Homo sapiens: one gene and its partners. The protein of the gene in region 1 purifies or fractionates together with the protein of each later gene. This does not show direct contact. Each region holds a gene or a part of one and is shown in the gene's direction. Other genes may lie near its edges. The genes, in order: MYLK, PGD, OSBPL8, ACAT1, ME2, MYL9 and NPEPPS.

The links.
Region 2: the proteins of MYLK (region 1) and PGD purify together in Homo sapiens (affinity purification with mass spectrometry; one large-scale study listed by BioGRID and IntAct). This does not show direct contact.
Region 3: the proteins of MYLK (region 1) and OSBPL8 purify together in Homo sapiens (affinity purification with mass spectrometry; one large-scale study listed by BioGRID and IntAct). This does not show direct contact.
Region 4: the proteins of MYLK (region 1) and ACAT1 purify together in Homo sapiens (affinity purification with mass spectrometry; one large-scale study listed by BioGRID and IntAct). This does not show direct contact.
Region 5: the proteins of MYLK (region 1) and ME2 purify together in Homo sapiens (affinity purification with mass spectrometry; one large-scale study listed by BioGRID and IntAct). This does not show direct contact.
Region 6: the proteins of MYLK (region 1) and MYL9 purify together in Homo sapiens (affinity purification with mass spectrometry, with the first as the bait; one large-scale study listed by BioGRID). This does not show direct contact.
Region 7: the proteins of MYLK (region 1) and NPEPPS purify together in Homo sapiens (affinity purification with mass spectrometry; one large-scale study listed by BioGRID and IntAct). This does not show direct contact.

What each region holds. Positions count from the first base shown.
Region 1 is NC_000003.12:123,727,333-123,730,832, reverse strand, and holds part of MYLK (myosin light chain kinase, smooth muscle), read left to right. Parts: intron 1-3,500. UniProt on the Homo sapiens protein: Calcium/calmodulin-dependent myosin light chain kinase implicated in smooth muscle contraction via phosphorylation of myosin light chains (MLC). Also regulates actin-myosin interaction through a non-kinase activity.
Region 2 is NC_000001.11:10,418,538-10,421,011, forward strand, and holds the end of PGD (6-phosphogluconate dehydrogenase, decarboxylating), read left to right. Parts: intron 1-288; coding exon 289-388; intron 389-879; coding exon 880-1,002; intron 1,003-1,092; coding exon 1,093-1,212; 3' UTR 1,213-1,974; downstream 1,975-2,474. UniProt on the Homo sapiens protein: Catalyzes the oxidative decarboxylation of 6-phosphogluconate to ribulose 5-phosphate and CO(2), with concomitant reduction of NADP to NADPH.
Region 3 is NC_000012.12:76,367,772-76,371,271, reverse strand, and holds part of OSBPL8 (oxysterol-binding protein-related protein 8), read left to right. Parts: intron 1-1,449; coding exon 1,450-1,635; intron 1,636-1,970; coding exon 1,971-2,058; intron 2,059-3,500. UniProt on the Homo sapiens protein: Lipid transporter involved in lipid countertransport between the endoplasmic reticulum and the plasma membrane: specifically exchanges phosphatidylserine with phosphatidylinositol 4-phosphate (PI4P), delivering phosphatidylserine to the plasma membrane in exchange for PI4P, which is degraded by the SAC1/SACM1L phosphatase in the endoplasmic reticulum.
Region 4 is NC_000011.10:108,135,067-108,138,566, forward strand, and holds part of ACAT1 (acetyl-CoA acetyltransferase, mitochondrial isoform b precursor), read left to right. Parts: intron 1-75; coding exon 76-176; intron 177-3,500. UniProt on the Homo sapiens protein: This is one of the enzymes that catalyzes the last step of the mitochondrial beta-oxidation pathway, an aerobic process breaking down fatty acids into acetyl-CoA.
Region 5 is NC_000018.10:50,920,618-50,924,117, forward strand, and holds part of ME2 (NAD-dependent malic enzyme, mitochondrial isoform 1 precursor), read left to right. Parts: intron 1-43; coding exon 44-141; intron 142-456; coding exon 457-570; intron 571-3,480; coding exon 3,481-3,500.
Region 6 is NC_000020.11:36,544,519-36,548,018, forward strand, and holds part of MYL9 (myosin regulatory light polypeptide 9), read left to right. Parts: intron 1-340; 5' UTR 341-366; coding exon 367-550; intron 551-3,500. UniProt on the Homo sapiens protein: Myosin regulatory subunit that plays an important role in regulation of both smooth muscle and nonmuscle cell contractile activity via its phosphorylation. Implicated in cytokinesis, receptor capping, and cell locomotion.
Region 7 is NC_000017.11:47,529,904-47,533,907, forward strand, and holds the start of NPEPPS (puromycin-sensitive aminopeptidase), read left to right. Parts: upstream 1-1,204; 5' UTR 1,205-1,397; coding exon 1,398-1,652; intron 1,653-4,004. UniProt on the Homo sapiens protein: Aminopeptidase with broad substrate specificity for several peptides. Involved in proteolytic events essential for cell growth and viability. May act as regulator of neuropeptide activity.

The sequences.
Region 1 (3,500 bases):
ATCATCTGATTTCAGAACATTTTCACTACCCCTCCCAAAAAAATCCTACCCATTAGCTGTCACTCCCTGTTCTCCCATCCCCACAACCCCTGATAGCCACTAATATACTTTTTGTCTCTATGGGTTTTCCTCTTCTGAACATTTGATGTTAAATGGAATCATTCAATATGTGGCCTTTTGTGTCTGGCTTCTTTCTCTTAGCTTAATGTTTTCAGGGTTCATCTGTGTTGTAGCAGGTGTTAGTACTTCATTCATCCATGTGGCTGAATCATATTGCATTGTATGGGTATAGCATACAGTGTTTTGTTTATCCACGCATCACTTAAGGTCCATGTGGTTGTTTCTACTTTTTAGCTATGGTGAAAAGTGTTGCTATGCACATTTATGTATGAGTTGTTTTCAATACCTGTTTTCAATTTTGATGTTTAGACCACATATATTGTTGGGTCATAAGGTAATTCTGGATTTAACCCTCTGAGGAACTAACAAACTGTTTTTCACCATTTTACATTCTTCTAGCAATGTACAAGTGTTGCAGTTTTTCCACATTCTCACCAATACTTGTTATTTTCTTGCTTGCTTGCTTGGTTTCTTGCTTTTTTTAAAAAATGAGGTCTTGCTTTGCCAATGGGGCTAGAGTGCAGTGGCATGATAATAGCTCACTGTAACCTTGAACTCCTGGGCTCAAGCAATCCTCCTGCCTCGCCTCCTGAGTAGGTGGGACTAAAGGTGCTTGCCACCACACTCGGCTAATTTTTTTTATTATTTGTAGAGATGGAGGTCTCACTATGTTGCCCAGGCTGGTCTCAAACCCCTAGACTTGAGTGATCCTCCCACTTCAACCTCCCAAAGCACTGGGATTATAAGCATGAGCCACTGCACTCAGCCTGTTTTCTATTTTTTCATTATAGCCATTCACAATCATCTGACTATGATTTTTTTTTTTTTTTTGAAACAGGGTCTCACTCTGTTGCCCAGGCTGGAGTGCAGTGGCGTGATAATAGCTCATTGCTGCCTCAACATCCCAGCCTCAAGTGATCCTTCCCACCTCAGCCTCCTGGGTAGCTGGGACCACAGGCATATGCCACTATACCCAGCTAATTTTGTTTATTTTTGTAGATAAAAGGTCTTACTATGTTGCCCAGGCTGGACTTGAACTCCTTGCTCAAACAGTCCTCCCACTTTAGCCTCCTAAAGTGCTGGGTTTACAGGCATGAGCTGCCACACCCAGCCTGACTGCAATTTTGATTTGCATTTCTCTGATGACTAGTGATTTTGAGCATCATTTCATATACTTATTGGACATTTGTATATCTCCTTCAGAGAAATGCCTATTCAAATACTTTACCCATGTTTTAATTGCATCATTTACTTTTTTATTGTTGAGTTGCAAGAGTTCTTTATGTATTCTGGATACAAGTCATTTACCAGACATGATTTACAATAATCCTCTCCCATTCTGTAAAGGCTGGATTATTTGTCATGTGCGGCCACAGAAGTCCCTGCTTAGTTAGTTTAGTGATCACCTAATTGATTGGATGGAGAGTTCCTTAAATGCCTTGAACTAATACTTTTCCCAGCCTTTGCCAAGGGGCTCTGTGTGTGTGTTACGCCCATCTTCAGTGCTCCGGCCAGCAGTTTACAGCTCTGCTTTAGCCTTTACTTTCTGCTTGCACCAAAGCTCCAAGTCAGCCAGAGGTGAGACAGGAGGGCCTTCTTACATCTTTCCTGGGCAGGCTCACAGCCCTGCACAACCATTTGGGCTCCTCAGTTCTCAGGAATCTGTCAGAGCTTTTCAAAGTCCTGGACATCTCATTCCCCAGTTTTTCCTTTGAAGTTTTTTGGTCAGGCTCTTGTTAGCTCCGAATGATATTGCTGTCTCAAGTAGCTATAATGTTAAACAATTGCTACTGATTGATTTTAACAAACATCCTGGAGACAGGGCCATCCACACAGAGTAAACTTTGAGTCGGATTAAACAAAGACAACCCGGAAAATGGAGTCGTTGAAGGAGCTGCCAGACAGGGCAAATAGTGACCATTCTCTTACGCATGGGGTTTTTCAGGAGCTCTGAACCCATCCTGCCCCTTGCTAAGTGGCTGATTTTCACAAGTACCATAGGTACTGTCGGTTTTCAGAGTTACCCCAGAGCTGGGGCAAGGGGCACAAGAGTGAAAAAGCACATAGCTTGCTGTTCTTACCAAGATTCAGCTATGTTTTATTGTTGTTGTTGTTGTTGTTGTTGTTGTTTGTTGTTTGGGAGGGTGGAGGGGCAGGGTATTGTTGTTTGGGGTTTTTTGTTGTTGTTTATTGTTTTTACTTTTTAGAGACAGAGTCTCGCTCTGTCACCCAGACTGGAGTGCAATGGCGTGATCATAGCTTGCTACAGCCTCAAACTCTTGGGCTCAAGCAATCCTCCTGCCTCAGCCTACTAAGTGAGACTACAGGCACATGCCATCATGCCTGGCTAATATTTTAATTTTATTTTTTTTGGTAGAGACAAGAGTCTTGCTATGTTTCCCAGGCTGGTTTCAAACTTCTGGCTCAAGCAGTCCTTCTGCCTTGGCCTACCAAAGTGCTGAGATTAAAGACTTGAGCCACCACTCCTGGATGTTTGTTTGTTTTTATTGAATGCTCCTCAGAATGTTGCAAGCCTGTGGTTAATTTCTGGCATTCTGAAACCGTTGCTTTTGACTCTTTTTGCCAGTATTGTTGTTGCTTTTATGGAGGAGTAGATCTTCAGAGGTCTTTACTTTGCCATTCCACATCCTATCTTCTTGATGAAGACACTCGCTTTTCTAAAACTTCTCCAGTTCCTAAACATCCTAGCTAATTCTTGGCAGATGAGTTTACCATGAAGCAGGTCATCTGATGGGTGTTCTTTTAGCTCCTCCTACATACTTCTCTCTTTCTGTTTTCCTATACTACAGAATACCTGTCTGTTTCCCTTCCCAAGACTTCTCTTTCTGTCCCTTCCCATCTTCACAAGGATCTGATCTAACAATGATTTACTCTCTCACCACTTCTTCAATCTTTCCCCTTCCCTTATTGAGAGACCTCTTTTTTCTCCCTACAAGCATGCTGTAGTTGTCCCTATGCTGAAAAAGGAAAGAAAATCTTCCTTCCACTTGAGAGCCCCTGCAGCTCCTACTCTATCCCTCCACTCTCTTTCATCCCTAGACTATATTTGCCTCAAGTAGAGTCTCTATGCACAGCTTCTACTTGATAATAACAGCTAACACTCACTGAGGATGTGCTATGCTGGGTTTTGTGCTAAATGCTCTACCTGAATTGTTTCATTTAGTTATCCCAACAATCTTACAAGAAAATCATACCCATTTCCTAGATAAGAATACTGATCTTTAGTAAGGTTAAATGACTTGTCCAAGTTCACATGCCTTGTAAAAGAGAGCATATTTCTAACCCAAACTGACCTGGCATGAAAGCCTATATCCTTTTTTGATAACTCCCAAAGGCATTTCTCTAATGAGGGAGTTCAA
Region 2 (2,474 bases), on another chromosome or scaffold:
AGGCCGAGGCAGGCGGATCACGAGGTCAGGAGATCCAGACCATCCTGGCTAACACGGTGAAACCCTGTCTCTACTAAAAATACAAAAATTAGCCGGTTGTAGTGGTGCGTGCCTGTAATCCCAGCTACTGGCGAGGCTGAGGCAGGAGAATCGCTTGAACCTGGGAGGTGGAGGTTGCTGTGAGCTGAGATCGTGCCACTCCACTCCAGCCTGGTGACAAAGCGGGACTCCGTCTCAAAAAAAAAAAAAAAAAGACTCATTGCTTTTTTCCCCCCTTGATTATTTCAGTGTATTCCTAGGAAAGATAAAGGATGCATTTGATCGAAACCCGGAACTTCAGAACCTCCTACTGGACGACTTCTTTAAGTCAGCTGTTGAAAACTGCCAGGTATGTAGCCTAGGGCTGGTGCCATGGTTACTCTACCTCCCTGGGGCCATCAGTTGTGATGTTTGGTTTTTTGTTTTTTTTTTTTGGTTTTTTGTTTTTTTGAGACAGAGTCTCGCTCTGTCACCCAGGCTGGAGTACAGTGGCATGATCTTGGCTCACTGCAACCTCCGCCTCCTGGGTTCAAGCGATTCTCCTGCCCCAGCCTTCCTAAGTAGCTGGGACTACAGGTGTGCCAACATACCTGGCTAATTTTTTTTTTTTTTTTGTATTTTTAGTAGAGATGGGGTTTCACCATGTTGGCTAGACTGGTCTTGAACTCCTGACCTCGTGATCCGCCCACCTCAGCCTTCCAAAGTGCTGGGATGACAGGCGTGAGCCACCGCGCCTGGCCTAACCATCAGTTTTTCATTTACCCACATTGATATGAATGAAAATCTATCCGCGTCACCAGGGGCAGATCACTAATCTCTGGCCGTGCGTTTTGTGCTCAGGACTCCTGGCGGCGGGCAGTCAGCACTGGGGTCCAGGCTGGCATTCCCATGCCCTGTTTTACCACTGCCCTCTCCTTCTATGACGGGTACAGACATGAGATGCTTCCAGCCAGCCTCATCCAGGTAAGCCTGTGGAGCAGGGATTAACCTGGCTGGCCCCTCGGGGGCGTGCGCCATGGACTGTCCTGACCAACCTACTCTCTCGTTTCCTAGGCTCAGCGGGATTACTTCGGGGCTCACACCTATGAACTCTTGGCCAAACCAGGGCAGTTTATCCACACCAACTGGACAGGCCATGGTGGCACCGTGTCATCCTCGTCATACAATGCCTGATCATGCTGCTCCTGTCACCCTCCACGATTCCACAGACCAGGACATTCCATGTGCCTCATGGCACTGCCACCTGGCCCTTTGCCCTATTTTCTGTTCAGTTTTTTAAAAGTGTTGTAAGAGACTCCTGAGGAAGACACACAGTTTATTTGTAAAGTAGCTCTGTGAGAGCCACCATGCCCTCTGCCCTTGCCTCTTGGGACTGACCAGGAGCTGCTCATGTGCGTGAGAGTGGGAACCATCTCCTTGCGGCAGTGGCTTCCGCGTGCCCCGTGTGCTGGTGCGGTTCCCATCACGCAGACAGGAAGGGTGTTTGCGCACTCTGATCAACTGGAACCTCTGTATCATGCGGCTGAATTCCCTTTTTCCTTTACTCAATAAAAGCTACATCAGACTGATGCTCTTTCTCCAGATTCTTAGTCTCACCTCGGCCACATGGAGCCATTATCCCCATTGGCAGAAAGATTTTTCTTTAAAAAAAAAGACTAGAATAACACAAGAAACCACATTTAGGATTATGCTTCACTCAGAGGAGGCAGGCAGGGAGGACACACCAGGGGCTTTAATACACTGGGCATGTTTTCTTTCTCCAATTGGGCAATGGGTACATGGACGTTCACTGTAACGTGCTTTTTCTTTCGTCTTTTTTTTTTTTTTTTTTTTTTTTGCTCCTGGCAAGCTGTGCGTGACATTCTTTATGGCTTTTTGTATGTCAAATACTTCATACTAAACTTTCTAGAGAATTAAACTTTAATGATGGGCTCAGCTTGGTCTGATTTATTTCCTTTCCCACACCTGTCTCTACTTGCTCTAAGCCAGGCCCAGGGATTTTGAACAAGCTAAGCCGGCTCCTTAAACTAGGCTTTTCACTTTATCTTACTTACTCAGAGAAGATAAAACCTGCCAGTGATATTGTTGTGTGGCCTGGGGCCAGTGTGACTGTTCCCTGCAGCGGTTTGACTTCATGATGATTTCCCTGGAGTGTTAAAGTCCTAAGAGTTGCCTAAGAGGAGCGAGCAGCGCCTGTGCCTCGACAGCTGGTGTCTACAGTGTGACCTCTGACCTCTCGGCTAATGTCAGTGAAGGAGACAATTTTCATTAAATCACCAACTTTTAATTTATTTTTCTTTTTTTTGAGACAGAGTCTCGCTCTGTCACCCAGGCTGGAGTGCAGTGGCGTGGTCTTGGCTCATTGCAAGCTCCACCTCCCGGGTTCACACCATTCTCCCACCTCAGCCTCCAGAGTAGCTGGGACTACAGGTGCC
Region 3 (3,500 bases), on another chromosome or scaffold:
TCGTCTTGCTTTTCTGTAGCTCAAAACTACTCATTTTTTTCTTTCTCAATTGTTCCAGCACCTTAAAAAAAAAGAAAGAAAGAACGTTTTTGTTTAAATAAGATTACAGGACTAATTAATGACTCTTAGTTTCTACCTGGCAACAGTTTTCTAACCTGATTTAAGCATTAGAACTCTAGGTAAAGGGAGTGGTGCAGAATCTACTTCTGTTCCATTCTCTGATACAAAAGTAAAGTTACTGGATGGACTGGCTTCTATAGGATTTATTAGTTGGGTAATAACTAAGGCTATCATTTCTGTTCTTAAGTCATGAACTTCTTGCTAGATGGCTTATATTTTTGAATCAGAAATATTGTATACACATTCCCTATTTTATTGTTGTTATATCTTTGTGTTAAGAGAAAGAGACTTATGTATAAGAGATATTTTGCTAGGCACTTAGTACTTATTATGCAACTTTGTCCTCCCTACATGTTTGCACATACATATCATTCTCTGTCATGGGAATTCAAGTCTGTGTACCTTCCCTTCTACACTCAAATTTGAGGTTGTCAAAGATGGAAGAATGTATATGTACCAGTTCTAAAAATTCTGTCTCAGCCATAACCATTTGATGTTCTTTTTCCAGAGATAAGCTTTGCCAAGGCATACATATGATAATTTGTGAGAGTATATAATTCAGCATATTTGAAGATGAGGAAATGAGACTTAGGATAAATAACTTTAAGTGCACCAGCTAAGAAGTGGCAGCTCTAGGACTTGACTCATGTCTATCTGATCCCAAAGCCTTTTCTGGTTTTAACATGCTGCCTTTCTAGATGGGTAGGATATAGATATACTTTTATTTAACAGAAGAAAGAACTAGTAGGGGAAATCATTTTACCTCAGTAGTCTTTTCTGTTAAACCAGTGGTTCTCAACACTAGCAATACATTAAAATATTTTGGGGAAACATTTAAAAAATATATCAATACTTGCGCCTGACCCCAGAGATTCTGATTATAAAAATTCTCTGATAATTCATGGATCCAAACTTCAGAAGCACTGCATTACATTAATGGATCTTTATGAAGCCAGTGAATCTTAAACAGTGTAAGACGCATCTAGGAAGCTTGCTAAAAGCGTAGATTCCTGAGCTTTACCTTCATTACATCCTATCATCTTGAGCCAGCAACACTTCAACACTTACTATCATGAGTTTAAGAGTCTATGTAGTAAGTTTCTCTTGCCAAGTAAAAAAAATTAGTCTCCACTTATGAACAGGTCTCTCTCTACTCAAGGGACTGGATTTATATCTTGACTCATTTCTAAGCCTATGAGCATAAGTGTTGTCAAAGCCAGAAATTCATGTGAGCATTATTTTCTCTACAAGGGATTTGAGGCCTATTCTATATAGATTTTATTTTCTGTTACATTTTTAATACTTTTAATATTTTCGCACATGTATTAGACTCTGGCAACGGGTAACTCGAGCCATAAATGCCAAAGACCAAACTGAAGCTACCCAAGAGAAGTATGTTTTGGAAGAAGCTCAAAGACAAGCTGCCAGGGATCGGAAAACAAAAAATGAAGAGTGGTCTTGCAAATTATTTGAACTTGATCCACTCACAGGAGAATGGCATTACAAGTTTGCAGAGTAAGTAACTTAAAATAGTTTATTTCAAACAATGTATTAGCATGGTTTGTTGCCTTTATTTCTAGAATATTTGTTGCTGGAGTAGTTTTTATTTAATTAAACCATGTATATTAGTGTGAGATTTTTAAACTTGGTTTTGCATTCATTATAAGCTTGACTCTATGATAGAAGTTAGCCTATAAAATAAGTTGAGGATCTGAAGATTAGGTATGGGGAAATCTCATTATTAGAACTATGTATATAATTATTAATAAAATTGGATCATAGAATAGAAAGTTTTAAAGTTCTTTGTTTAGTCATTGAGCAAATGGTTTTTTTTTTTTTCATTTATGTAGTACCCGACCATGGGACCCACTTAATGATATGATACAGTTTGAAAAAGATGGTGTTATTCAGACCAAAGTGAAACATCGTACTCCAATGGTATGTAATAAAAAACTAGGTACACTAGGTATATAAATCTGTTAAATCTTTAGTATCTATAGCAACCAACTAAAATTTGGTTTCAAAATTTAAAATTTTGGGTGAGCAAAATACGCAGCTCTGAACTCTTCTTACCCCAAAGAAACATCAGAAAACAAGCAAAAACTGTCAACTCAATTTGCCAGAACTCTGGAAAACAGTCAGAGGTGTTCAGCAACCAAGTGAACACTGGTCAAGAAAGTGCAAAGAGAGGAAAGCTTTGTGGCATTTTACCTGCCCTTGCCCCAGGTCCATCCCAGTGCAGTAGCAGTCTTGAAGAGCCCCTGCGTTGCCAGTGTAAGTCCCTAGTTCCAGAAGGAGCAGAGTGGACCTCATACACAATTGTGTATGTCTGTCCTAACCTGTCAGAATACTACCTGAAGGACTTACACAGGCACTCATCTCTGAGAAAATCAATAAAGACAAATTATTCAAGGGAGCCAAACAAATTCTGGAGCTGAAAAGTATAACAAAAATGAAAATTCACTAGAGGTATTCAAAAGCAGATATAAGCAAGCATAAGACAGGATCAGGAAACTTAGAGATAAGACCATAAAAATTATCCAGTCTGAGGAGGAGAAAGAAAAATGAATGAAGTGAGGTGAACAGAGCCTAAAGGACCCATGGGACACCATCAAGTGGGTTATCATTGCATTATGGGAGTTCCACAAAGAGAAGACAGAAAAATGAATGAAGAATATTTAAGGAAAGAAGACCCCCCAATCCCCAAATTTGGTGGAAGATATAAATCTACAAATTCAAGAAGCTCAACAAACTCCAAGTAGGATGATCTCAGAGAGACCCACACCACAACAAACTGTCAAAAGCCAAAGAGAGTCTTAAAATCAGCAGAGAGAAACAACTTATCACATACACTGGGGATCATCCATAGGATTAACAACCGATATCTTATAGAAACCATGGGGGCCAGAAGGCAATGAGATGACATATTTAAAGTGGTAGAAGCAAAAACTTGTCAATCAAGAATTCTGTATCTGGCAAAACTGTCATTCGAAAATGGGGGAGAAATTAAGACATTCCCAGATAAAAGCTGAGGGAGTTCATTACCACTAGACCTGCCCTACAAAAAAATGCTAAGGTAAATATGTAATAAAATGAAACTCAAAGCTGTATGAAGAAATAAAGATTTTTAGTAAATAGTTGGACAAATATAAAAGCTAGTGCTATTGTAATTTTAGTTTGTAAGTCCACTTTTTATTTCCTGCAGGACTTAAAAAATAAATGAATGAAAAATAATTTAATTACATATCTTTGTTATCAGACATACAATGTGTAAAGATATAGTTCATTACAACATAAAAGCAGAGAGGATGGAGCTGTATAGGAGGAAAGTTTTTATGTACTACTGAAGTTAAGTTGGTATCAACTCAAACTAGATTGTT
Region 4 (3,500 bases), on another chromosome or scaffold:
TAGTAACATGCTCTATTAAGTTCTGCAGTTGTGTTTGAGTATCGGTTTTTCAAAAGTGACTTATATTGGTTTTAGGCTTACCTATTTCTACTCCATGTACCACCATAAACAAAGTTTGTGCTTCAGGAATGAAAGCCATCATGATGGCCTCTCAAAGTCTTATGTGTGGACATCAGGTAAGAAACACCGTCCTTCCCATTTATTAATCAGAGTAATACCTAGGGCTAAAAGACACAAAAATCTAGGCATATTCATATTTTAGAAATGAGATTCTTTCTCATAAGTTAGTATGTTTTCTCACATGCTCAAGAGTGTCTGGATTTGCTAAGTCCATTTGAAGTATGGTCAAAATGATAGCGTAGGCTGGGTATCATGTCTGTAAGCACTTTGGAAGGTCGAGGCAGGAGGATCCCAGGAGTTTGAGACCAGCGTAGGCAACATAGCAAGCGAGACTCTGCTCTTTGAAAAAAAAAAAAGCCTAAGTGTCTTGTGTTACAAAGTTGTTTTTAGGCCCAGGCACAGTGGCTCACTCCTATAATCCCAGCACTTTGGGAGGCTGAGGCTGGGGGCAGATCACATGGTGAAACCCCGTCTCTACTAAAAATACAAAAATTAGCTGGGCGTGGTGGCAGGTGCCTGTAATTCCAGCTACTCGGGAAGCTGAGGCACAAGAGTCACTTGCATCTGGGAGGCAGAGATTGCAGTGAGCTGAGATTGTACCACTGCACTCCAACCTGGGAGATAGAGCAAGACTCTCAAAAAAAAAAAATTGTTTTTAGTCAAGGCATTTGGGTCTTTCTCTGAGGCTGGGTGACTAAAAATTCATAAATACTGTATTTGCCAGAATAAGACAGGTTTTCATTATAAAGGAGAACACGGTGCTTAACCCTGGGAATCAAATCATTGCTTGAGCCCAGGCTTGATGACTAATTTGTAGTCATTAAGTTAAGTTCTACAGGCTTTCTAATTAGCCTTGCTGATCTATATCTTGTCTTTACTTGAGATCAAGCAAGAGACAGGCTCCTTAGCAAAAATATGCTGTCATGTCAGGAGGTGAGACCTGGACACACAGAAGAATCAAGATTCTCTCAGATCTGAGCCCTTCATTTTTCAGATGAAGATTTTTTTCAGTGTGTCTGAGACAGCCACAGAGTTACAGGGCTGAGCATCTGCCATGTGACAGTCATTGGAAATAGAGTGGTGAACAAAACATTTAAAAAAATCTGTACATGTGCAGGTCTCTGTTGGAAAAATGCCTAAAAGAAATGCTGAGTCAGGATTTGAACATTTTGGTATTTGCAAATGCTTTCCATAAAAGTTGTACCAGTTAGACTTTCCAAAAATTGTGTGACTTGTCTGGATCTGCACCACCACTGGGTGGTACCAAACCCTTGTCAAACTGGTAGGTGAAAAACGGTCACCAGATTTAGTTTCAGAACTGTTTGTCATGGAAAGTTTTGTCTTAATTGAAGTATTGTGGTTCTCTAGCAAATGCCATTTGTACTATATTGAAATACTTTCATTTAATATTATTTTATTCATTTGTGGATATATACAGTGACTTATAGGCATTCTTGGAAGTGCTTTGTTTTGAATATTTATGACCTTAGAAAACAGTCAGTTTTACTTTATAATGAAGAATTGATACCTTATTTTCTGTCACTTATTATTGCCATCACCCCCAGTAAAAAGTACAAGTGAATAAAACTTAGATGAGAACTGATTAAGAATTTCTCTATTTCGGAATAGGCAAAATATTTATGTTTCTTTGGTATAGAGCTTGCTTGTCTGTATGCCTGATTAAAGACTGTAAGAAGATATTATTGGCTTTATGTTTACATTAATGTTTTATATTAAACTGTTTTTAACTAGCCCTTATAATGCAAGTGATTTTTTTTTGTTGACTTGTAAAGTAGTAACAAGTTGATTAATATTTATTAAACTTATATATGCCAGTTGCCAAGGATGTAAAAATATGACAGGGTGTCTGGCCTCAAAGGAGCATAGTCTAGTGGGAAGACTTGACATGTAAACATATAATAATATTAAAAGCATTGCATAGTAATTGGGGAACACAAAGGAGGAGAAACTGTTTCAAGAAAGGATAGAAATAAATGGTCAAGGCAGACATGAAGTAGTGTTCTGATTAGTTTTAAGAGAAATGTAGGTGTTTTACATGTTGGTGGATGGGGAAAGTGCAGAGGTATGTGTGTGAAATGTGCATGGTGTCTCTGGAGAGCTTTAACTAGTTCCATGTGACCTGAGGTATAGGTTAGGCTGTGAGACTGAAAAAGGGGAGAGAAGGGATACTGTAAAGGCTTTATATATTATGCTGAGTTATCTAAGGTGCGAAATGATCAGACTTACATTCTAGCCAAAATGAGTCAGATGAGTGTTGATGATGCTTTGGTGGAAAGGCTGCATGTCAGAAGATCAAGTGGAAAATTATCTCAGCTGTCCAGGAAGAGATGATGAGGATCTCAGTCAAGGAAGTATGATTATTTTCATGAACTGAGATTACTTCTAATCTTCTAGAGCACATTAAATTTTTAGCAGCATGAATGAAATGAAGGGTTAGAAGTTAAGAATTTCAGGCCAGTCATGGTGGCTCACACCTGTAATCCGAGCACTTTGGGAGGCTGAGGTGGGCGGATCGCTTGAGTCTGGGAGTTTGAGACCGGCCTGGGTGATATAGTGAAACCCCATCTCTACTAAAAATATTATACAAAAATTAGCTGGGTGTGATGGTGCATGCCTGTAGTCCCAGCTACTTGGGAGGCTGAGGTGGGAGGATCACTTGAGCCCAAAAGGCAGAGATTGCAGTGAGCTGAGATCGTGCCACTGCACTCCAGCCTGGGCAACAGCGAGACCTGTCTAAAAGAAAATTTAAGAATTTCAGAAGATGGTTTTACATGAAAGATTTCTGGTATTTTTTTTTTAAAGACAGAGTCTTGCTTTGTCACCCAGGCTGAAGTGCAGTGGTGCGATCTTGGCTCACTGCAAGCTCTGCCTCCCAGGTTCACGCCATTCTCTTGCCTCAGCCTCCCGAGTAGCTGGGACTACAGGCGTGTGCCACCAAACCCGGCTAATTTTTGTATTTTTAGTAGAGATGGGGTTTCACTGTTAGCCAGGATGGTCTCGATTTCCTGACCTCGTGATCAGCCCGCTTTGGCCTCCCAGAGTGCTGGGATTACAGGGGTGAGCCACCGTGCCCAGCCAGATTTCTGGTATTCTTATTAATGTCTGGTTGTGAACTTTTGAGACAGAGCCTTGCTGTCACCCAGGCTGGAGTGCAGTGGCACGATCTCAGCTCACTGCAATCTCCGCCTCTACTTTTTTTTTTTTTCTTTTGAGGAGTCTTGCTCTGCCCCCCAGGCTGGAGTGCAGTGGCACAATCTCAGCTCACAGCAACCTCTGCCTCCCAGGTTCAAGCAATCCTCCTGCCTTGGCCTCCCGAGTAGCTGGGATTAGAAGTGCCCACCACCACACCCAGCTAATTT
Region 5 (3,500 bases), on another chromosome or scaffold:
TGTGCCCATTTTTTATTTGTAAAAATCTTTGTTTTTCTTACAGGGACAGCTGCAGTAGCTCTAGCAGGTCTTCTTGCAGCACAAAAAGTTATTAGTAAACCAATCTCCGAACACAAAATCTTATTCCTTGGAGCAGGAGAGGTAAGTTTTGAAGGCTTTTTGAAACTTAAGCCTATCCTCTCTTATAGAATTAGAAAATGGGCAGAATATTGATGTTTATGAAAGAGCATAGTGAGCCTGTAATTTTGTTGAGGTAGAGGATATGAAATCAAGAGTTCTGCTGTAAAACATGTAATTTAAAATATGTTTCGAGAGAATATCACGAAGAATTTTTGTTTGATTTGTAAGGGAAAAATAAACCAAATATTTCTTATGGCATATAATCTTCATATATAAAGTAATTCAAGCATTGCATCGTACTCTAGTATATATTAAAATTTATGTTTTGTTGAACAGGCTGCTCTTGGAATTGCAAATCTTATAGTTATGTCTATGGTAGAAAATGGCCTGTCAGAACAAGAGGCACAAAAGAAAATCTGGATGTTTGACAAGTATGGTTTATTAGTTAAGGTAAGGTATTTAAAATTTGGAGAAGCAAAAGAGTGTATTATATTTTTAGTTGGATTTTTAAAATATTATTCCTTAAAATCTTGTTTCTCATTGGAGTCTCCAAATTATACCAATTGGGACCTTCCACTCTCTTTTCAACAGATGTCCCTAGTCTTGTTGTCTTTTACAAAGACTTCTGCTTCATATTGAATTAATAATCTCTATGTTGGCATCAGACTTACTCTTTCTTGCTTTGTTGTCTTGCTCTTAAGAGATCAAATGGCCATTGTACAAGTATGATCGTGTTTGACACTCCTAAAACTAGGTTTTTAGTAGGAACTGAGAACTTCCTAATTAAATTGCAGTATTGCAGTAGTTTTGATATTTGAGCAGAAATTCTTTTAATTTTATTATTATTTATTTTTTTTGAGATGAAGTCTCTCTCTGTCACCCAGGCTGGAGTGCAGTGGTGCGATGTCACCTCGCTGCAACTTCTGCCTCCTGGGTTCAAGCAATTCTCCTGCCTGAGCCTCCCGAGGCTACCGTGCCTGGCCGTGAGCAGAAATTCTTAACCCTTTGGAGATCATAATCCCCTGAAGAAATCTAATAAAAATCTGTGGACCCTATCCCCAGGAAAAAAGCATGTGCTCCTGAAACCAATTTATGGATAATAAAGAGCTTATCTCCCAGATTAACTTAGTACCTTTGGGCCTGACTACCTTTGTTAGCATTGATTACCATTTTCACTAGCTTAAGAATGTCATATATCTTCTGTGTAACACATTGAATATAAGTAAACTGTTCCATAGTTAAACCAATCCAGTACACAATGCTGTTATATTTTTGTATGTACACATTAAAATATAATGGTATAGCTGTCGCTTGGCATTTATGTCTGTGGAGCAAGCTATCTAAATGTACTTTGTTCCAGTTCTAAAATCTTTTCTTGTTAATTAGAACCAGTATTCTATTAGTACAAAAAATAAAATGAAAAGTTAAAGTATGTGAATGAAAAATCTTGAGTGCTCAAACTACATGTAATTTAAAATGTAATAGTAGTTATATACCAGACATTGTTATAAGACTTTACATGTATTATCTCCTTTAATCATCTCAAAAAATCCTGTGAAGTTTTACAAATGAAGAAACAGTTTAAAAGGTCGAGGGAGTTTTCCAAAGTCATCAGCTTATAAGTGACGGAGGTAGGATTCAAAACCAAGTATCCTGACTGCGAAGCCTGTGCTCTGAATAATTAAACTGTGCTGCCTCCCAAAGAGGCTGTAACTACCATATTTACTAGTATGTAAGGCACAAGGATAAAACATCACATATTTAGAAGGCTATTGGGGGATGTATGTTTTGACTAGTACACAGTTAGTTTGGTACTTCTTTTTGTAATGTTGGTTTTCATCAAATATGTTGTGATTCTTTAGCATATTGGTAGGTCAGGTCTAACACAGTATTGGTAGCTACAATGTGTTTACTTAGCACAAAGTGAGAACCCTGTCCATCTCCATATTCATCATCAGATTATATATTTCTTTTCCAGTGTGCAGGTAGCTTGGCCTATGGGCATTAGGCTTCCAGTGTCTCCTGGTGATCCTAAACACTGCCCTTCATTTTGAAACTTTGAAAACAGTGGCTTCTTATGTCACTGTTTGCTCAGCCTGGTTTTCTCAGCCGATTGATGATAGTGTCCTGCTTTACTAACCCCTGCAGTTTCTTATCTGGAGTTATCTTGGAGTTCTGATGGAAATACACTTTTTCAGAAGTCTTCTTTTTTACCAAAATAAGAATATGAGTTCTCAGTTGGTTTTTGCATTCAGTATGTTTTTGTCTGCCTTAAATCTTTGAGAAATTCTTCATTGTTCTAGTCTGTCAGTGGTATCTCTTCTGGCTTTGTGGCATTACTACAAATTTAACTTTTATGGTTTTTGACCTGGGATTTGGAAAGGAAAGCATGTTTCTTCATTCAGCCATCTTTAACCAGAATTCCCTGTTCCTCTTGTTTCTGAACTCTTGGTAGTGCAAGTCCATGGTGTCTGTCTGCAATTCTGAAATCCTAAAGGCTTTGAAATTCCAAAATTTTTTCCAAAATTTATTTTTGTGACCAATCTGATTGCCTTGAATTTACCTAGAAGCGAAACCTGACTCAAACTAATAAGAAGCTCTTTGTAATCTTAACCTTTTGTACTTGATGTGACTATTCATAAGTTTGTTCAGTTGTGGAGTATCTGTTGGGAGGGAGAATATGTAATATTTGATATACGCCATATTGTATTTCTAAAATATGAAAAATTCTCAGCCAGGAGTGGTGGCTCATGCATGTGGTGGCTCAGCTTCCCACTTTGGGAAGCTGAGGTGGACGGATCACTTGAGCCCAGGAGTTTGAGACCAGCCTGGGCAAGATGGCAAAACCCCATCTCTACAAAAAAATCATCCGGGCATGGTGGTGTGTGCCCATAGTTCCAGCTACTCTGGAGGCTGAGGTGGGAGGATCACCTGAGCCCGGGGAGGTAGAGGCTGCCACTGCACTCAAGTCTGGGCGACAGAGTGATACCCCATTTCAAAATAAATAAATCAAATTAAATTAAATATGAAAATTTCTTAATTCCAAAACTCATCTACCCCAGATAAAGGACTGTAGGCTTTTGTGCCACATTGGACTTAGGAAGACCTCATAGTGTAAATGCATTTTTGAGAGGAACTAGAAAGTTTCTAGGAATAATGGTAGATTTGATTTTTGTTTTATATTTGAGTTTATGGACATGATGAAGATAGAGTTGGAAGGTATGGGTTGAAGAGGAAAGTAAATGAAAATGAAAAGACATTTCTATTGTAGAAACAATGTGTAACTCATAATGATGTCTTTTTATTTCATCTTTAATATGCATTGACTAAAAAAATACTGTATTTTATCTCAAAATTTAGGGACGGAAAGCAAAAATAGA
Region 6 (3,500 bases), on another chromosome or scaffold:
CCTAAGTGTTTTACCCAAACAGTCACAGCCAAAATAGCTGATTCCATGCCCGGCACTGTTCCAGGAGCTCTCGGGCACTGAGTCAGTTAATCCCTACTGCTGGGCACTCCTCATGTCTCCAGTCCCAGATGAAGACTCTCGGGCTCAGAGAGGTAGAGGAAGTTGTTCAGAATCACACAGCCACACTTGTCTGCTTTTGTGAAGAACTGGGTGGTGGGAGCCCCAAATCCGTGGGCAGCCTTGAATGCCAGGCCGAAGTGCTAAAAGCCAGTCTGGGGGAGGCAGGAAGATTCCCTGGCCCAGAGTCACAGGGCCACCCAACCCCCACCCCTTCCTGCAGGGAAGCCCCACCCACCAGAAGCCAAGATGTCCAGCAAGCGGGCCAAAGCCAAGACCACCAAGAAGCGGCCACAGCGGGCCACATCCAATGTCTTCGCAATGTTTGACCAGTCCCAGATCCAGGAGTTTAAGGAGGCTTTCAACATGATTGACCAGAACCGTGATGGCTTCATTGACAAGGAGGACCTGCACGACATGCTGGCCTCGCTGGGTGAGCTGGGACAGGGACAGGGGTGAGATGGATGAGGCCAGGCAGGCTCTGCCAATCATTTACAGGGCACCTCCTGTGTAGTGAGACGCGTGGTGTCCACCTTAGAGAATAGTTGCCATTAACTTAGTCCATTCAACAGGGAAACTGGGCCGGGCGCGGTGGCTCACGCCTGTAATCCCAGCACTTTGGGAGGCCAAGGCGGGCGGATCAATAGGTCAGGAGATCGAGACCATCCTGGCTAACACGGTGAAACCCTGACTCTACTAAAAATACCAAAAATTAGCCGAGCGTGGTGGCGGGCGCCTGTAGTCCCAGCTACTTGGGAGGCTGAGGCAGGAGAATGGCGTGAACCCGGAAAGCGGAGGTTGCAGTGAGCCGAGATCGCCCCACTGCACTCCAGCCTGGGCAACAGAGCGAGACTCCATCTCAAAAAAAAAAAAAAAAACAGGGAAACTGAAGCACAAAGCAGGTCCACCACAGGGTCTGAACGTAGACAGGCTGACTCCACAGTGGGCCTGTCTTAGGCAGATTTGTGCACTGGGCTGCCAGGTATCATTTCATTTAAAGAAAGGGGTCAGCTGGCCAGGCGCTGTGGCTCACGCCTGTAATCCCAGCATTTTGGGAGGCCAAGGCGGGCGGATCACGAGGTCAGAAGATCGAGATCATCCTGGCTAACATGGTGAAACCCCGTCTCTACTAAAAATACAAAAATTAGCTGGGCGTGGTGGCGGGCGCCAGCTACTCGGGAGGCTGAGGCAGGAGAATGGTGTGAACCTGGGAGGCGGAGTTTGCAGTGAGCCAAGATCACGCCACTGCACTCCAGCCTGGGCGACAGAGCAAGACTCCGTCTCAAAACAGAAAGAAAGGAAAGAAAGAGGTCAGCATCTAAATGAAAGTGTGAACTGCAGGCTGCCCACTGCACAGATGGGGAAACTGAGGCCTAGAGGGGCGGCCAGACCAGCTCCCCTCCTTCAGAGGTCACCCATCTCAGGCTCTCATAGCCTCTCTGGTCCCAGTGACTTCCTCAGGATCAGGACCTTAGAACTAACAGGGTACAAAAATCAAGTCCAATTCTCTACTGCAGATGGGGAAACACAGGCCCAGAGGCAAGGCCTCCACAGACCATGCCCCAACCCACGGGCCTGCCCCAACATCCCTCCCAAAGTGCTGGCCACAGCCAGCCACTCTCAGCCCAGTTCCCGCGTACCCCTCATGCCGAGTGACAGCATCCAGACCAGACACTGCCTGGGGGAGGGAGAGTCCAGGACCAGAGGACACAGCCCCGTGACAGTCAAGCCTCGAGCTTTGAGGCCAGAGAGTCAGTCCCTGGTAGGGCCCTGTGCACTTTCCTCTTCCTGTGAAATGGGGCCATGACCCTGACATTTCCCCACGAGGCACTGAGCAGGAGAACCAGGCAAACCTGAGTGGGAGAACTGACAGCACGCTGCCCCCGGCCCTGAGCACCAAACCTCTCCCCGCTTCTGGCCAGGCTCGCTTGAAGGCTCCCTCCCCCAGGAGGTCACCTGGCAGGAAGTAAACTCCAGGGTTCTTTTTTTTTCCCCCCGAGACAAAATCTCACTCTGTTGCCCAGGCTGGAGTGGCACCATCTCGGCTCACTGCAACCTCCGTCTCCCAGGTTCAAGAGATTCTCCTGCCTCAGCCTCCCCAGTAGCTGGGATTACAGACGTGCGCCACCATGCCCGGCTAATTTTTGTATTTTTAGTAGAGACAGGGTTTCGCCATGTTGGCCAGGCTGGTCTCAAACTCCAGAGCCCATCTTGGCCTCCCAAAGTACTGGGATTACAGGTGTGAGCTACCACGCCTGGCCAACTCCAGGGTTCTTATCTGGGGCTTTCCCAGCTTCGTGGAAGGACTGAGGCCTGGTGAGAGAAGGGGCTGGCCTTAAGTACCCCAGTGTCCTGGCGTCACAGCTCCTCTTGGGCCTCAGCTTCCATGGCCATCCCAGGGGGACACAGCAGGGTATGTGAGGCTCAGGGACATGAAAACTTCCTATTTCCAAGGCCACACCCTGCACCCAGGCCCCTGAACCCCTGAGACTTCATGACAGCCCTGGGTGTCCACCCAGAAAAACATGCACTGTGTTTGTAGCTCATATCCGTGGGTCTGCAGGTGAGTCACACCCTTATCTTCAAGTTAAAAACAAGAGCAGCAAATATAATAATAAGAAGAAGCCCTGCAGGTATTATCTTAAATCTCAAAGCAATCCTATTGAACAGATACAATTATTCCCACTTTACAAACAAGGAAACTGAGGCTCAGAGAGGTTAAGTAATTTACCCAAGGTCACACAGCTACCAAGTAGTGGGGCTGCAATAGAAACCCAGCAGTTGATTCCAGTCCATAGGCCTGTGCCAGTCATTGTTATGAGCCTTTTGCAACTACTGTCTTCACAATTCCCCTAAGAGATGGGGAAAACCAAGGTGCACAGCTGGGATCCAAACCCAGGCCTGTCTGACAGCAAAGCACTGTGTCTGGACTTTGGAGTTAGGCTGCCTGGGTTCAAATGCCAGGTCTACTCAAGTCTCCTCCTTACTTGCTGTCTGACCCTGGACAAGTCACCTGGCCTCTCTGTGCCTCAGCTTCCATACCTGTGAAGTGGGTAAGAATGCTGACTTCACAGGGTGGTGAAAGTTAAATGCAATAAGGCACGTGGTCGACCAGCCACAGCGAGCAGTCTGCAGAGGGTTGTTCTTATTACACTTTAGTGAGCACTGCCGGCTGCTGACATCCAGGCCACAGGAGGAAACTGGTGGGAGCAGCCAGGGACTCCGGGCGCCCACTGCTGTGGCTGCGCTAGAGCCATGCTTTCCAGTTCACAAAACCCACTACCTCCCGTCTCACACGGAGCGGTGAAGGGCAGGGGTGGGGGACGGGGGTGCAAGTTGTCCCAGCTGGGGACAGAGGGCCCAGGACCACAGGCTGGAACACC
Region 7 (4,004 bases), on another chromosome or scaffold:
GGTGAAACATCCCATTTTATTTATTTATTTATTTATTTATTTATTTATTTTGAGACAGAGTCTCACTCTGTCGCCCAGGCTGGAGTGCAGTGGCGCAATCTCGGCTCACTGCAACCTCCACCTCCAGGGTTCAAGCGATTCTCCTACCTCAGCCTCCCGAATAGCTGGGACAACAGGCGCCCGCCACCAAGCCCGGCTATTTTTTTTTTTTTTGTATTTTTAGTAGAGACGGGGTTTCACCATATTGGCCAGGCTGGTCTTGAACTCCTAACCTTGTGATCCGCCCGCCTCGGCCTCCCAAATTGCTGGGATTACAGGCGTGAGCCACCGCGACCGCCCGAAACATCCCATTTTAAACATTAAATCATGGAAACAAAAATACAGTTTTTGAAATCACTCCCTCAAAAGTCCAAATCTCATTGGTTGAAGTAACCTAGATTATTAAAGGTTTTTTTTTTTTTTTTTTTTTTTGAGACGGAGTCTTGCTCTGTCGCCCAGGCTGGAGTGCAGTGGTGTGATCTCGGCTCACTGCAAGCTCCGCCTCCCGGGTTCACGCCATTCTCCTGCCTCAGCCTCCTGAGTAGCTGGGACTACAGGCGCCCGCCACCACGCCCGGCTAATTTTTTGTACTTTTAGTAGAGACGGGGTTTCACCATGTTAGCCAGGATGGTCTCGATCTCCTTGACCTCGTGATCCGCCCGCCTCGGCCTCCCGAAGTGCTGGGATTACAGGCGTGAGACACTGCGCCCGGCTATTAAAGGTTTTATAACAAAACTTTCAAATCATCCTTTGAATTTGCTACTTAACAGGAACTAAGGCCAGAGAGCCTCAAGTCAGGGCTTTTCGCTGACCTGGAGGCAGAATCCAGTTTGGGGTTTTGCTTGTAACTGGTATTTTATGCATGCGACCCTGGCTGAACTGACCAACTGCGTAGGCTTCAATTTCCCGAGGGCCCCTTATGCCTTTCCTTCCTCTGATCAAGCCCTTCCCGGCTCCTTCCAGTTGGAAGGCCGCCCCCAGTCCTGAGCGGCGCCGACAGGTGCAGCGCCCGCCTCCAGCCCTGCGCTCGCGCGAGCAACCCGACGCCCTCCCGCCCCGCCGGCCGCGCCCTCGTCCTCGCCGCTCCGCCCTCTGCCCAGGCGTGCGCGCGCACTCCACGGGGGCGCGCCCGGCCGGCGGGGCCGCGCACGCAGCCGCCGCCACCACTTCCCCCTCTCCCTCCCTCCTTGCGGGCCCTCCTCCCCTTCCCTCCCCTCCGCCCCCTTCCCCGTAGGCAGCCCGCCCGCCAGTCCGCCCGCACCGCCTCCTTCCCAGCCCCTAGCGCTCCGGCTGGGTCTCTCCCCCGCCCCCCAGGCTCCCCCGGTCGCTCTCCTCCGGCGGTCGCCCGCGCTCGGTGGATGTGGCTGGCAGCTGCCGCCCCCTCCCTCGCTCGCCGCCTGCTCTTCCTCGGCCCTCCGCCTCCTCCCCTCCTCCTTCTCGTCTTCAGCCGCTCCTCTCGCCGCCGCCTCCACAGCCTGGGCCTCGCCGCGATGCCGGAGAAGAGGCCCTTCGAGCGGCTGCCTGCCGATGTCTCCCCCATCAACTACAGCCTTTGCCTCAAGCCCGACTTGCTGGACTTCACCTTCGAGGGCAAGCTGGAGGCCGCCGCCCAGGTACAGCGACCCTCGGGCCCCGGGGCAAGCTGCGGGGCGAGCAGTTAGGCCGCGCCCGCGGGCTGGACTCAGGGCCCGGCCGGGAGGGCGGGCGGGCCTCGGGTCGGGGCTGGGCGGCCGCAGGGCGCCGGGTTCGGCGTGCTCTGCCTTGCTCTGTTGGGGCTGGGGCTGGGGCTGGGGCTGGGGCCGGGGCAGGGACCGTGGCCGGAGCTGAGGCTGGGGCTCGGGCTGGGGCCGCGCTGCGGGAGCTCTGGGGAGCCGGCGGCCCGGCCATTGCGCCCCTCCCCGGCGAGCACACCTGTGTGGGGCTTTCCCCCCCGCCCCGGACCCTTCTGGGCTTGATAGTGTTCCGGGGGAGGCTGGAGGGTGTTGGGGGAGGACGGAGAGGTCATGGGAGTCCCCGCTCTGCCTCAACCACCTGACTCAGTTCTTTCTTTGGTTTCTCTCTACACCTCTCGGGTGATAGATTGGAGGGGGTGGTCATTTGGGACTCTGGCCGCCGCGTTGGAGCGACGAGGGGAGCTTCTAGAAGGGGGGGGAGAGGGTGAGAACGAGAATGTTAATCCCAGGCAGCCTCGCTGACTTCTCCCCGCCTGCTCCAGCCCAGGGGCTGGGTTTCCAAGATGATCCGCCCCCTCCCCCTTTCCCTCAAGTGACAGTGCAGCAGTGACTTTGTTCTCTCTTAACCTCCAGAGAAGCTGCGGGAGGACCCCATCTCCGCTTTTCCACCTATCTTCCTAGCTTTGCGGCCTTCGAAGCTGGTGGATTTATTGCTACCGTGATGGTTGCTTAGCAGTACCTTCCTCTCCCAAGAAGCTGGCTGGGCGCGGTGGCTCATGCCTGTAATCCCAGCACTTTGGGAGGCTGAGGCGGGCGCACTTGAGGTCAGGAGTTCGGGACCAGCCTGACCAACATGGTGAAACCCCCGTCTCTACTAAAAATACAAAAATTAGCGGGGCGTGGTGGCGGGCCCCTGTAATCTCAGCTACTCGGGGGCTAAGGCAGGAGAATCACTTGAACCCGGGGGGCAGAGGTTGCAGAGTCGAGATCGCGCCACTGCATTCCTGCATTCCAGCCTGGGCGACAGAGTGAGACTCCGTCTCAAAAAAAAAAAAAAAAAAAAAAAGGAAAGAAAGAAGCTATTAGTTATAACATACCACCGGTGAAAATATTCCATTACTCTTCACTGCAGTTTTTGGTGAATCATACTCCACTCCCTCCTCCCGCAGCATTATCTGAAGTATTGTTTGATTTTGGAGACCATCAGTATAGATGCCCGACAAACATCCTGCACAATAGGCATTTATGATACTATGTAATAGGAAGCCTGTAATAAAAATGGGAACTGTTTGATAGTTATCTGTAAATAGAATGTTAGTAAATATATTTTGTTTCATTTCTCTTCCTACTGCAGTCTGGGGTCGGGGGAAATCAGTAGGCTCCCACCTTAAAGAACATGGTGTATATAGTAATGAAATGAAGTGAAGACTGGTGCTCGAATGAATTGAATGTTGGTAGTTGTCTTTGAAAAACCAAGAGGGTACGGTACTCAGATTAAAAATATGTCTAAAAGTACAGAATTTAAAAGTATAGTTATCTATACTTATCTGTGATAGATAACTATAGCTGTCACATTTGGAGCACTGGTGTGAAAGCAAGAGGGCTCTAGGATTTGGCAGCATCAAAAGGCAGAACTTAGTGAAAATCAGGTGATTTAAAATTTTTCCATTAAGAATATGAATCAGAACGAATGCATCTTGGGTCTAAATTAGAATTTGAGAAGGTTATTTGGGAAACTGTGGCTTAAGCCAAGTGACTAGAGTGTTTGATATATATTGGCAAGGGGCAGATGGGAGGGATTGTAAACAGTAGTGTGTCTTGTGACTTGGCAAACCTTTGGGAAAGAGAACCTAGTGATGAATGAGTTCGCATTATGTGAAAAGACTAACATTAAAAAAAACATTTGTTTCTTTACCCTATTAGTTGCCAAAATGGATTCATAATTTTTGGAGGCAAACATATTTTGGGAAAAGTCTAGAAAAAAGTACAGATTTTTAAATGATTACTTATTAAAGAAGTGAGTTTGATTTAAGTATCGGGATAGAACAACAAGCAGTGACATGTTTCTCCTTACCTCTTTTCTACTTTTGTGGAAGACTGGTTTGTGCCATTGAGTGAGCATATGGTAATATACTAGATATTAGCAGGGACTTGTTAATTTGATGCAAGGAAATAAATAAAAAATAAATAAATTTTTTAAGTAGCATGAACTTTTCAAAACACTTTTTTTCCAGAAATTCTTTTCAGGCTAGATGGCAACACAAAGATGACACAATAGTGAATTCCAACAGG